Linked DNA regions of Homo sapiens. The protein of the gene in region 2 purifies or fractionates together with the protein of the main gene of each other region. This does not show direct contact. Each region holds a gene or a part of one and is shown on either strand. Other genes may lie near its edges.

Region 1 (4,389 bases), on a different chromosome or scaffold from region 2:
AGGCCTCAAGAAGCCAAGGGGAAAGAGGCCAGCAAGTCCACAGATGAGGAAGATTGCCCAACGCTCCAGAAGCCTGCATGGACCGTCACTGGAGGCATGATTTCTGCTGGGGAATTAGAAGTTCCCCAGAGGAGGGAATATTTGAGCTGGGTCTAGAAGACAAAGTAAGGGGGGTGCCAGACTGGGCAATGAGTAAAGAATGTTCCAAGAAAAGCAGATGCACAGAGGGTGTGGTATGTTGGAGCACAGTTAGATGCAGCTGGAAGGGTAGGCTGGGGCCAGACTGGGAGGGATCTGAAGAATGACAAGTTTAGTTTTTCATCCCGTAGAGCAGTGGCTTTTAACCTTCCTTCACCCTCCTCACCATTGTCCACCAGGGGGGAGAAAAAATAAAAATAAAATAAAAAACAAGAAACAAGAAACAGAGATTCTCAAGTGTGAGATGGGAGTGGGAAAGTCAGTTCCAATTGCGGGATGAAGAAGGCTGAAAAGGCCCATGTGCAGACATGCCGCTGAGCTCTCCCAGGGTGGGGAGCATCTGGTAGCTGCAGACAGGTCCCTCTGGCTGAAATGCAGAAATCCCACTGAAGAGGGTGAAGGTGGAGAGCAGGAGAGCATGGTGAGAGAGGAAGTCAGGGCAGAGGAGTGAAAAGGAAGGGTGATTTCAGAACCACCAGGGGGCAAGGGCTGGAGAGGCCACCAGGGCTTCTGGATGGGAACCTGGATGACAGATGTACACTATCAGCCCCGGTGGTGGAGAACACAGGAGAAGGAACAGGAGGGCCTGTCCTCAATCCCTTGACTCTGGTGGGTCGGCCGGGCCCAACAGGAGTCCTCTAGCCGACATTAGCATCCCAGAAGGGCTGCCCCAGACCCTACACCCAAATCTGTCATTTGGAGCAAGACATGAGACATCTTTTTGCCTTGGCCGGGCATGGTGGCTCACACCTGTAATCCCAGCACTTTGGGAGGCCGAGGTGGGAGGATCATGAGGTCAGGAGATCCAGATCATCCTGGCTAACACGGTGAAACCCCGTCTCTACTAAAAATACAAAAAATTAGCCGGGCCGGGCGTGGTGGCAGGTGCCTGTAGTCCCAGCTACTTGGGAGGCTGAGGAAAGAGAATGGCATGAACCCAGCGGGCGAAGCTTGTAGTGAGCCAAGACCGCGCCACTGCACTCCAGCCTGGGCGACACAGCAAGATTCCATCTCAAAAAGAAAAAAGAAAAAAAAAAAAACCTTTTTGCCTCCCCCTCAGAGTCACCCATCTAAGGCTGGAGAGTCCTCCTGAAATCTCAAAGCCCCTTCATCCCACTCCAGGGAAGGCAACAACACCATTAATGAGCGATCTGCCCTCAGAGCTCCCCCTCCAGGGGCCTCAGGAGCTTAAAGTGGCTCCCAAGGAGCTATTAGTCATTGGCTTTAAATAGCAGGTAATCCTTCCTCTGACCTGGCAGGCGGGGGCGAGCATTGACACAGACAGAGGCTTGGGTTGGGAATGGACTCTTCCCTCCCAACTGCACCGGCCCTCTCCCTACACTGCTCCAGGGCAAAACGGTCCAGTGGGAAAAAGGGAAAGGGAAAGGTGTACTCTACCCAGCCACGTTACCTGTGTGTAAGATAGGTATGGTGTTTCCTCCTTCTGGAAAAGGCCACATCACCCTGTATAAAAACATCTTTGGGACTTCAGAGTCCTGCTCTTTCGGGGACTTTCCAGTAACATTTGGCCAGAGTTCAGGTTGGGGGGTACAGGGAAGAGTAGAAAGGGGCTAAGAAGATCCAGCTGTCTTTCATGGTGGCCGGGGAGGGCCAGGAGCTCCCAAGTTCCTGGGAGCTTGGAGCACTCTGGAAGCTCTAGCCCCGAGGGTCAGGCAGATCACAGGACATAGGGCTGGGGCTCAGCTGTTACCTACCTTGCTTCAGTCAATCCCATTTCTATGAGAAAATGATGGAGGGGCCACCTAAAGAGTCCTGGCCCTGACTCCCTCCCAGCGCTCCACGGTGAATGGCACGGGGCATCCGCAAGTCCAGCCTGCAAGGGGCCCAGCTGGCCTCCGGAGGCCTCCTGGGAGGCGGAGGAGGACCGGGGAAGATACAGCAGCCGGCCAAGGCCGCGGGAGGGAGGGAGTCAGGAGACTCCCATCAGCAGGCAGCCCTCTTCCAAGCTCCTCGAAGCCTCTGGGTCCCCTCCCGGGCCCCACTTACGGCCTGCGTCCATTGCACCGACTCCCCGGCCCTTCCCTTATGTGACCAGGCACGGACAATTGGGAGCGCAAAAATCCAATGAACTGTCCAGCCAACTGGAGTTGGCAGGGAGATGGCCAGGACAAAGTTATCCAGACAAGACTTATCCATACTAGAGTCCTAGAATCTCCCAGGTGGAAGGGGTTCGAAAGTCAAACGCAGTTCCCTGGCCTCATTTTTCACCAGGGAAAAGAGAGGCCCGACACAGCGGATTCCTTTGTCATTATCTGTAAGCCGCATCCCTGGGGGCGGCAGGGCTGTCACCCGATGTCCCGAGTCCCAGCCCAAAAGCCCCAGCGCAGAGACAGCAGGGCCGCATCCCCCTGTCCCGCCAGGGCGCAGCGGAAGAAGCCGCCCCTCTGCCCAGCCCGGTCCCCGGGGCTTTGTCTAAGTTTGTCAACAGTGGAGGTGGAGGGCGGGCGCCGGGCAAACTTCCGAGCGGCGCGGGGAGGAGGGGCGAGGGGCAGAGGGCGGCGCGATCCACTCACCCAGGGCGACGAGGAGGCTGGGGGCGCAGAGCAGCGCGCCGCACAGCGCGGCCAGCAGGCGGGGGCGCGGCATGCTGCGGGGACGCGGGCGCTGGAATGGGCACGCTGGGCTGCTCAGACCCCGCGGGGTTCTGGCGCCTTCTCCTCTGGGACCGGAATAAATCAGGCGGCTCAGCACCTCCCACTGGCCGTGCGCTCCGCCCAAGCTGGCCAGAGGCGGACTGGGGGCGGGGCTCCGCGGCTGGGAGGGAATTGGTTGAAAGGAATTGGGGGGCGCGGGGGTGGTCCGCGATATCTGCCTCTTCCGCCACTGCCACACCGGCGTCCCGCGTCGTGCCAACGGCCGGGTCACGAGTCTTGAGTCTGTTGGGCGGGAAAAGTTCAGGAGTTTTGTTTTTAAGATTTTTAGACTTGAAAAGATGCTAACTCTTTATTCATAATCAGATAGATGCAAATTAAAACTACAATGAGCATCGTGTTTCCCTTCTCGGATCGGCAAGTATCAAGATGTTAACAAGGTTAGTGGAGGCTGTGGGGAACAGGTCCAAGCATGCTTCGCTGAAGACAGTATAAATTAGTTCAACTTCCCTAGAGGGCTATTTGGTAACACCTATCAAAACGACAAATGCTGACACCTTAAGACCTAGCATTTCCACATAGAGAGATTCATTCTACAGAAACTCCCATGTGCAAAATGACAGATATACAAAGATAGCATAGCAACATTGTCTGAAATGGTAAAATACTAAAAAAAAAAAATCAGCGAAGGTTTCTGTAAAGGGCCTAATAGAAAATGTTCTCTGATATGTAGGCCCTGAGTCTCTGTAGCAGCTATTCATCTCTGCCTTTGTTGCAAGAAAGGCACCATAGACAAAATGCGAGGAAATGGGCACCTGTTTGCCGAAAGGGAATAAAACAAAGCAAGCCTGTCACCGTTGACTTTTTACTAAATGATTTGTACTTATCATGTGCAAATATTACCTGTTTACAAATAAGTGATTTTAATAATAGTGTTTTGGCTGGGTGCGGTGGCTCACACCTGTAATCCCAGCACTTTGGGAGGCCGAGGCACGTGGAACACCTGAGGTCGGAGTTCAAGACCAGCCTGGCCAAGATGGTGAAACCCCGTCTCTACTAAAAATACAAAAATTAGCCGGGCGCAGTGGCAGGTGCCTGTAATCCCAGCTACTCGGGAGGCTGAGGCAGGAGAATCGCTTGAACCCAGGCGGCAGAGGTCCCAGTGAGCCGAGATCATGCCACTGCACTCCAGCCTGGGTGACACAGTGAGACTCTGTCTCTAATAATAATAATAATAATAATAATAATAATAATAATAATAATGCTTCAGGCTGGGAGTGGTGACTCAAGCCTGTAATGCCAGCTCTTGGGGAGGCCGAGGTAGGCATATCACTTAAGCTCAAGAGTTCGAGACCTTCCTGGGCAACATGGCAAAACCCTGTTTCTACAAAAAAAGAAATACAAAAATATTCCAGGCGCATGCCTGTAGTCCCAGCTACTCAGGAGGCTGAGGTGGGAAGATCGCTTGATCCCAAGAGGTCGAGGCTGCAGTGAGCCACGATTGCACCACTGCACTCCAGCCTGGGCAACAGAGCGAGACTGTCTCAAAAAATAATAACAATACTAATACTAATAAGTA
Region 2 (3,591 bases):
CTTTTAAAAGTACAAGATCATTCCATGAGTAGTTTAGAAAAGGACTGATAGTAACTAGTGACTCTGTTGATCTAACTTTGGAAAGAAGGGATTTAAATTACTCAGAAATTATTAGTTCACTTTTCATGCTAAGTCAAATAATGAGAAATATTTTATAGAAAATCTTATAGACCATAATACTCTGCCATTCATAATCTAGCTGAGCCATGAAAAAGAGCAATGACATGAACTCAGAGAGACTAAAAGACATCAGTATGGCTAATGAACTCATGAATTCTAGCAGCAAATCTGCAGTGCAGCTAATATGGTATCCTTGCTCTTAATCGAGTCAATTTTCAATTATAATTGGTAGGATTGCTCCCCTGTAGATAATCTCTATCCCCTAAAAATTGATAGAGCTGGAAAAGAGGAGCTGTATTATAAGGAAAACGTCCAAATGTGGTGCAGGCTTCCATTTCCTTATTGGAGAACTATGGAATTTGGTAGAAGAAAGAGCGATCATCTCGCATGGGAAGGCAATGGCCTTGTAAATGTATGTGTATGGCCAGGGACCAGGGTAGAAAGGATGGTGTTGGCATAAACTGAAAAGAAGCACATGCCAGGATGCTTTCCTTGTTCTGTGTGTAACTCTCGGAAACTCAAGTGCAGAAAGATCTATTGAGGAGGAAAAAGCATCTCAGAAGAAGCATTCAAAGTGTTGCCTTATATGAATGCAGTCCATACTGGTCATTCAACTCAGCTATAGATATTGATTTTATAGACACCAATGACTGCTCATATCCATGTCTAGAGCCTAAAATGACAGGATTTTTCCTGGTTTTACAGGAGAATTTGAACAAGCTGATGACCAACCTCAGGAGTACCCATCCTCACTTTGTGAGGTGTATCATCCCCAATGAGACAAAAACTCCTGGTAAGAAATTCCATAATGAAAGTGCAAAGGATGACTGCCACACCTCCTTTTCAACAGCTCTGCAGTGAAATAAATATGCATTTTTAGGTGCCATGGAGCATGAGCTTGTCCTCCACCAGCTGAGGTGTAACGGTGTGCTGGAAGGCATCCGCATCTGTAGGAAAGGATTTCCAAGCAGAATCCTTTATGCAGACTTCAAACAGAGGTCAGTTTCTCCTGATTATGGTGTATTCTGAAGTTTAATATGAACAAGTTTAATGCAAGCAAAACAATTTAGTGAAACATATGCCTCTACTTGTTAGTTTTGTCACAAAAAGAAGTAAAAAAATTACAAGTCTCAAGTCTCGAACACTTTTGTTTTGAGACAAAGTCTTGCTCTGTCACCCAGGCTGGAGTGCAATGGCGTGATCTCAGTTCACTGCAACCTCTGCCTCCTGGGTTCAAGCGATTCTCCTGCCTCAGCCTCCCAAGTAGCTGGGACTACAGGCATATGCCACCACGCCCAGCTAATTTTTGCATTTTTAGTACAGATGGGGTTTCACCATGCTGGCCAGGCTAGTCTCAAACTCCTGACCTCAGGTCATCCGCCAGCCTTGGCCTCCAAAAGTTTTGGGATTACAGGCATGAGCCACCATGCCCAGCCTCAAATACTTTTAAAATATAAATATACAAAATTTTAAGCACCTTGTGGAATTTTCATTGGATTTATCAGGCACTTAGCTTAGCTCATAGATGCACACGTTAACTCCAATAATAATTAAGAACGACCTTTTTGAGTGCTTAATATGTTCAGATTATCTTGTTTAATCCTCGCAAAAACACAGTGCAAGTAGGTACTATTAAGACTTCACTTTATAGATGAATAAGCTGAGGCTCAGGGAAATTAAGGTACTTGCCCAAAGTCACAGTTATTAAGTGGTTGAGTTAGAAACTCTTCCATACAAACATAGCTATTCATTTTCTGTCATTTCCTTTGGTATCATCTATGTTCGTCTTTTTCTCCCACATATTAGACTCCCAGGGTTTCCTGGAGGCAGAGGGAACATGTCACAATGACTGTTCCTCAGGTCCCTTTTCTCCTCTCTAGATAAGCCCATCTTGAGAATCAAAGAAAAGGCAGAGGTGGGGAAGGACTGGGTAGCAGCTGCTAGGAGCTGATCTCTCCCAGGTCTGGGTCAGGTGGCACTGACAGAGGATTCCAGGGCTCAAGATCCAAAGCATGTCTAAGTTTGATTTTAGGTGATTAGGATAGTTCTGAATACCTAAAGTGTACTGTCTACCAAATTCTTCAATGAAAAGTAGCTTTCTTGGATTCAGGGCCTTAAAAAGCAAATGCATCTAGTAAAGATAACAGATTACATTTTATTGGTTAGGCACACCATAATGTGTCCCTTTCTTAAGGCAGAACCCTTTTCTAAGAACAGGGTCTGATGAGACAGAAAGGAAAGTTGCAACTGCGAGGGAAAGGCAAATGGAATAAAAATTGGTTGCCAAAGGGTTGACCATTCAAATAAACAATGTTCTCCTTGTGAACAAAGAATAATATTTTTTTAAAGCTCTGCTTTAAAAAATGAATCATTTAATGTTTAGCTAGCATTTGTGTCATCAGTAAACTAGTTGTTAAAAGCTATATGTACTTCAACAGATACAAGGTATTAAATGCAAGTGCAATCCCTGAAGGGCAATTCATTGATAGCAAGAAGGCCTCTGAGAAGCTCCTTGCATCCATCGACATTGACCACACCCAGTATAAATTTGGGCACACCAAGGTAATTTTCTGTAAATCCTACCTGATGCTATTCCTGTCCCTTTGAACTTTATTAAAGCTTGTGATTTGCAACTCTTTCCATTCACAGGTCTTTTTCAAAGCTGGTCTTCTGGGGCTCCTAGAGGAGATGCGAGATGACAAGCTGGCCCAGCTGATTACCCGAACCCAGGCCAGGTGCAGAGGGTTCTTGGCAAGAGTGGAGTACCAGAGGATGGTGGAGAGAAGGTATAAAAAATATGTTTATTCACATATTCCATCTTCAAAAACATATTTGAAATGGCTTACAGTTAAGACTCAGCTTATGATAAGGACACTAAAGAAGAAATGAATAAGAGTCCTATAATGAAGTGGGAATACACATGTACCAGAAAACTTAAGGAAGGAACCATCACCATCTGATTGCATGGGTAAAAACTTGAGAAGTTAGGTAAGAAGTGTGTACTTCTTATCTAATAAGATAAAATACACCAGTGAGTAAGCAGAAGCAAACTTTTGCCCTAGCACCTGTTTCTAATATGAATTTATTGGACAGATCATTAGATAAGGGACATTGACCTGCAAAACAGACAGTATACTCAAGAGTGCTTTTACACAGGCTGTAGAGACAACTTTTTCCCTCTGATCATTTATATTATCAAACTCTCATGATTTAAAATATTAGGGGCCATTTATCTGTGAAAGACTTTTTGCAGTAAGTTAACACAATGCATCAGGGAATGTAGCTATTTGGTGATCTAATTTGATGCAAGGACAGAGTTCAAAGACTATAGAGCCAGGTGTCTCAAAGTACAGGATGTCTGTGATCAGGACCATTTCTCCATGTTGAGAAAGGCATTTTACATTGCCACCTATACATCTACACATATACATATGTGTATGCAGATATATAAATAATTTATATGAAGCAAAT
Region 3 (3,557 bases), on a different chromosome or scaffold from region 2:
CCACTCTATCTCACAGATATCCTAAATGTTGAGCTTTGAAGCTTGTGAAGGATTAGCTGTGAACAAGAAAGAAAAAAGACAAATATCTACATCACAGAAGGGATTAGAGAAGGAACTAGTGTTTGGTGCAGATAATAACCAAAATAGTGGAGAAGAGAGAATGACAAATGGTTGCAAAATGATCTGCCAAAGTGCAGCAAAGTATGAAACCTGCAGCATTACAAAAACTAAGTTGCAGACTTGCCATATAAAGTGTGGCGCCCATTGCTTTTCAAGCCTCCTGGACCAGTAATAGGCAGCTTGAGTGGGAAGACCACAGGAGTAGCTTAAATGGCACTAAGAAATCGCTATCCCAGTGGTCTAGTGTGGTCAGGAAGTCAGTGGTTTGAAGGTGGAACCAGATAAGGACTACAGGCTGTAGTCACAAATTGTTCTTCCAAAACACTGCCCTTGCATTTTTTTCCCATTGTTTATAGCTGCAGATGCCTGACTACTCCAGTGTAATTAAAATATAGCTCTGCAAAAGAAAGATGTTCCATTAGCCCCTGCCTCCCCTCACCAGGAGACAGCCTTCTGTGGTTTCGTTTACAATTTAACATGGTTTACTGATATACCTACCATATTTGTTAGGATTTTCATATTGAGTCTTTTTCATTTTATTTTCTAATGGGTTTTGTTCTCTTTGTTTTTGTTTCAATTTACTTAAAACAAAACGCACGCCTCCTGCATTGGCCACCTGCTGCGGCACCAACCCCTTCATGCATTGCCCTTTTCTTGCTGCTGTGTTGGGATGGTGCGCGCACCACCCTCACTCACCCTCCATTTCTTGATCACTCTCCATGTTCTTGCACCTCTGCCTTCCACTTCCTGGTCATAGACGAGCTGTACGCTCAGAAACTGAAGTACAAAGCCATCAGCGAGGAGCTGGACCACGCTCTCAACGATATGACTTCCATGTAAACGTTCATCCACTCTGCCTGCTTACACCCTGCCCTCATGCTAATGTAATAAACTCACCACCATGCCTTCCTTGCTCCCTAATCTCCATCTTTGCACTCTTGTGTTCACCCTTTTTGTCATAACCTAGAATAGTCATTGTTTTTTCACTTTCTGCTAATATAAAGGCCAATTAGATTAAGTCTGTCTATACAAACCATTTTCTTTTCAGAATCCGTTTATTTTGTAAACGCTGAACTAGAGCAGTGAACTAGAATGAGTGACCTTGAGCACTGTCCTTTTGGGAAATTAAGCTAAACTCAAGTAAAACTAGAAGGCCATGCCGTTTGTTGTACAGGAACTTCTCAAAAAATATCAAAATTTGTTTCCTGAAATTCAACTAAGTACAACATAATCATTTTCGTTAAATATAATTTGAAGGAACCCTTAAAGTGTCAGGTTATTGAGAATCTGAGGATAAGGAAATTGGCATGATCCAATACAGCTTTAACAGTGGTACTACAAAAGATCATCTCTTTTACTTTTAAGAATTCTAGAGTAGGCCGGGCACAGTGGCTCACGCCTGTAATCCCAGCACTTTGGGAGGCCGAGGCGGGCGGATCACGAGGTCAGGAGATTGAGACCATCCTGGCTAACACGGTGAAACCCTGTCTCTACTAAAAATACAAAAAAAATTAGCCGGGCGTGGTGGTGGATGCCTGTAGTCCCAGCTACTCAGGAGGCTGAGGCAGGAGAATGGCATGAACCCGGGAGGTGGAGCTTGCAGTCAGCCGAGATCGCACCACCGCACTCCAGCCTGGACGACAGAGCGAGACTCTGTCTCAAGAAAAAAAAGAATGGTAGAGTAAAAAGAACCCTCTGCTGAGTAACCAAGCCTTTAATTTTGTGTTTTTATGAAAGGAATTAAAATACCCACGATAAATATTTACCACAACCTGTGTCAAATAAATGGGAAATTAAACACAGATTGTACAATGTGAGCTTGGGAGTTAATGGCCCAGATTTTACTGTTAGGCAGTAAGAGTTGGAGTAGGTAGTCTTGTTATCATGAGAAGAACCTTGAACAGATACAACTAATTTACATATTACTAACCAAACTTAAACATTAAACTTTTTCTACTACTTTAAATTCTAACCTGGAATGTTTCAGAGTTCTTCATTCTAATATCACCCTGAATTCCATTGAAGCTGGAAATGTCATTTTCCAAGCCCACCTGTCATTCATTTACCCATGCAGAAAAAATGGTAACTTGAAGAGAGTGGCATGTGCCTGCTGCCTTAGAGGTTATAGAATCCCCACAGTCAACAAAAAAGCCTCTAGAGACATGACTGTTGCCATGGAAACCAGAGAAAATGTGTCTTCTCATCCCTCATTTGTAAATGAGGGGGTGGAGCAGATCATCTGTCTCTAAGGTCTTTTTCAGTGCTAAAATGTGGTGATTCTTTGGGAAAAACTTTTTGCATCAAGTATGATTAAATATTCTGAAAGACGAGTGTAGCTTAAAATTTTTTTTGTTTTTAAATTCTGTTCATGGGTCTTCTTAAAATGGACCCTTGCCGAAAGGCGGCCTGTGACGGCCTCAGGTGGGAAGATGGATGTCCTTCCAAGGGTGTGGCTGGCAGTGGGGTTTGCATGACTGCTTCTTGTCTGTGTTTCAAGTGCTCTCATCTATTGGTTTGGTTTCCTTTCTTTTTTTTTTTTTTCTCATTGTGCCACTTTTTTTTTCCTCCCACCTTTTTATCTTCACGCAGATAAGTTTCTTTGCTTCACTTCTCCCAAGACTCCCTCGTCGAGCTGGATGTCCCACCTCTCTGAGCTCTGCATTTGTCTATTCTCCAGCTGACCCTGGTTCTCTCTCTTAGCATCCTGCCTTAGAGCCAGGCACACACTGTGCTTTCTATTGTACAGAAGCTCTTCGTTTCAGTGTCAAATAAACACTGTGTAAGCTATTTCTGTTTGCTATTCTTTTTACTTCTTATTTATTGACATTTTAGTTTCAACATTGAATAAAACTACAAAGCTGCTTCACACATATGAGGGTTAGTGTTTGGCTGCTGCTTTTTCTTTTTAAATACTGAACACTATACAGAATTATATCAGGAGTTTCTAAAGCAGTAGTTCCTTGTTGAACTTCAAAAAAATACCCAGGCCTGCATTCCCTCTCAGAGTTCTGATTTTCAAAGGTTAGAATGAGGTCTGGACATCTGGGGGGGTTTTGGGGGAATTGTGATGGCTCTGCTTTGCAGTCTGGGTCACACAGGGGACATTGCTTGTTGAGAGTTGAAAGGTCTGGCTTGATCAGTGTCTTCCTTTGCTGGAGGTTTAGCTCGGGATGTAGTGACCCCTCTGTGTTGATTATTTCGGTGGCCTTACTTGGGAGGACCTGGCTAACTAATGAAAGGCTCATGATGAATGGTTCTGTAGCTGTCCCATATTACTAGGAAGTTATACATTGAGAAGGGTGAAAAAGAACTTGGATTCAAACAATGTAAGTTTTGGTTATTGTCGATCATCCTTTTATAGCACAAAGAAAAGTTCAAGCTTTTTTGAAGTATATTCATGACTCAGCCACCTTTATTTTGATCATGAAAATGACATC
Region 4 (2,367 bases), on a different chromosome or scaffold from region 2:
TATTTGGTTATTTTCCTGAGAGTCAATGAAACTTTAAGTGAAAACGATCCCAAGATAAGAAAATTTAAAAACAGTCTAATTAAATAGGTGGATAGACCTAGCTCTTTAACCGAATAGAAGCAAAATTTAAAAGCCGAGATACTCAGTACATGTACTAGGGTATCAAGTGCCCTCAGTAGAATATATCTGAAAGTGTGAAAAACAGTACTTTAAGCAGAAATGTACATTTTATTTAAAAAGCAATAGCAAAGGTGTGAAGAACACAAACTTCTATTAATAACAGTTTATTAAATGCTTTATAGTAAAATATTGAGCCCACTCTATTACAATACACAGACTTAATGTTCTAACAAAGAAAACTGCCTCAATTGAGGGAAGTTTGTGATGCAAATGCAAGGTGGAATTTTGGGGAGCAACACAAACAAATGTATCCTCCTTCTGCTCTTCCACAACTGCAATACTGATGTTCAGAAATGTTTAGGTATTGGGAGAAACCTTTAGAATTTCCTGAGTATTTTATTAAACAATTCTTACAATTATGTTACCTTAAAGGAAAACATGAAAATTTTCTGATGAAAACATCCATTTTAATATTTATTATCTTCAGTGACTAAGAAACACAATCCTAAACAACATGTATTATACCGTAAGAAAGTCTTTGGAGTTATCATAAGGCTCTCCAGCACAAGGTAAACTTCAAGGCAATTTATCAAGAACTAAATTTTTTTGAACTACCGAGATAGTGGCATATGAAGGTAAAAAGAAATGTCAAGGTTAGCCGATTGTTTTCCAAATACTAGGATCTAAAGAATACCGGGGGAAAATAGAATGTGGGAATGAGGTGCTATTGGACAGTAACAGATGGCTAAAAACAGGTACTGAGACTAGTTAGCATTAACTAGTATATAATGTATCTTAATTCATTAGTCAACATTGTCTTCATGTATATAATTATTTCAGGATAGCATTTCTACAAATTTTATTGGTTCATTTAGTTTATCAAGTCAGCTTGCAAATAAATTTTGATTCCGAGTATCTAACGTTATAGCAACTATAATTGCATTTTGATGTTTATCCCTAAGTATATCTGGCACTGTCAGCCATGGCTCTTGAATACGTTGTTTCTTGATATAATATCACTAAAAACAGAAGTGATATTGAAAAAAATAACTACTTATCTAAAACTCAAGATTCACAATGAACTTAACCAATTAACATTACTGAGCTCACACTAAAACTAGATCTTTTTCATTTTAAATAATGTAACCAAATCCTACAAAGAACAATTATTCAGAAAATCACATCCTAAGGTTTGCACTCATAGTCATCTATAATACGTATTGAGTATTGGGACTGAATTTGTACTCCTGGTCCACACTTTGGTACCCTATGTTTTCCATACTGGACATTTCATTTTATGAATAGGGCAATCAAAGAACTTAAAAGTAAAGAAAATAAGCTTTAATTTGGATGCAAGCATTTTGCATTCATATTAATAAAAGAGATCATGCTTTCAAAGGAAGAGAAAAATAAAATCATGTGTGGTAACATAGAGTACTGCAGTCACAAGTAACCCAAACATACAACCATCTTCATTACAGAACTAAGCAGCCAATTCTAATACACTACAAACCATTTGATTAAAAAGGCTTACAGCCAATACTTTAAGAAGGAAACACCAGTGAAAATCGTTTTAAAATATATACCCTTGTAAAATGATATATTCTTTTAACATTAAAACCTTGTTTCAGAAGTTCCCCTCTTTAGGTTGTTACTCAAAAACTCATCATGTTCAAAACTCAAATTATTGTGAGATCTTGAAATCATAAGAAGCTTCTCCTTATTGGTAAAGTCCTTTTTGATGGCAACTTGGGGCACAAGCAACCTATCCATCGGGTCTTCTTTGTTCTCTAGTTTCATATATCCCTTGCTGTTGTTCCGATCCAACCTAGGCCAACTTGGATGTTTCCGTTGTTCTGCCTGAACAGTTAGAGTGGAGGGACCCCGGTCTAAGTCCAAGGACTTTGAGTGTGACGAGAGCAAATGCAAGGATGTATTGGACCCAAACTGTCTTCTGGCAGCCCCAGGAGACAAGAGCTGTCCAGCCCCAGGTCCGAGAGCCATAGATGACTTGTACTGACTCGACAACGACTCCCCAATGGAATTATTCCTTGGTAGCACTGTGCTGACGGGCTGGAAGGATTCACTGGTGTTGGGCAAAGGAACCACAAGGGAATCCATTGACAAATTCCTTGACCTACTTTTGAGGTTGTCAGCATCTTCAGTGATGTTATCTATACTGGGCTCATCAATAACACAGTTATTAAGTTTGATCACAGGCAATGTAAAAGCACTGATGGACGATGA

The links.
Region 1: the proteins of MYH2 (region 2) and MFGE8 purify together in Homo sapiens (co-immunoprecipitation; one large-scale study listed by IntAct). This does not show direct contact.
Region 3: the proteins of MYH2 (region 2) and TPM1 fractionate together in Homo sapiens (co-fractionation; one large-scale study listed by BioGRID). This does not show direct contact.
Region 4: the proteins of MYH2 (region 2) and TMEM200A purify together in Homo sapiens (co-immunoprecipitation; one large-scale study listed by IntAct). This does not show direct contact.

What each region holds. Positions count from the first base shown.
Region 1 is NC_000015.10:88,910,515-88,914,903, forward strand, and holds the start of MFGE8 (lactadherin isoform a preproprotein), read right to left. Parts: upstream 2,866-4,389; 5' UTR 2,806-2,865; coding exon 2,733-2,805; intron 2,655-2,732; exon of another isoform or gene 1,934-2,654; coding exon of another isoform or gene 1,914-1,933; intron 1,663-1,913; coding exon of another isoform or gene 1,610-1,662; intron 1-1,609.
Region 2 is NC_000017.11:10,532,600-10,536,190, reverse strand, and holds part of MYH2 (myosin-2), read left to right. Parts: intron 1-825; coding exon 826-913; intron 914-1,000; coding exon 1,001-1,118; intron 1,119-2,558; coding exon 2,559-2,682; intron 2,683-2,769; coding exon 2,770-2,906; intron 2,907-3,591. UniProt on the Homo sapiens protein: Myosins are actin-based motor molecules with ATPase activity essential for muscle contraction.
Region 3 is NC_000015.10:63,063,187-63,066,743, forward strand, and holds the end of TPM1 (tropomyosin alpha-1 chain), read left to right. Parts: exon of another isoform or gene 1-877; coding exon 878-956; coding exon of another isoform or gene 957-960; exon of another isoform or gene 961-2,709; coding exon 2,710-2,713; coding exon of another isoform or gene 2,714-2,801; 3' UTR 2,802-2,992; downstream 2,993-3,557. UniProt on the Homo sapiens protein: Binds to actin filaments in muscle and non-muscle cells. Plays a central role, in association with the troponin complex, in the calcium dependent regulation of vertebrate striated muscle contraction.
Region 4 is NC_000006.12:130,441,266-130,443,632, reverse strand, and holds the end of TMEM200A (transmembrane protein 200A), read right to left. Parts: coding exon 1,735-2,367; 3' UTR 566-1,734; downstream 1-565.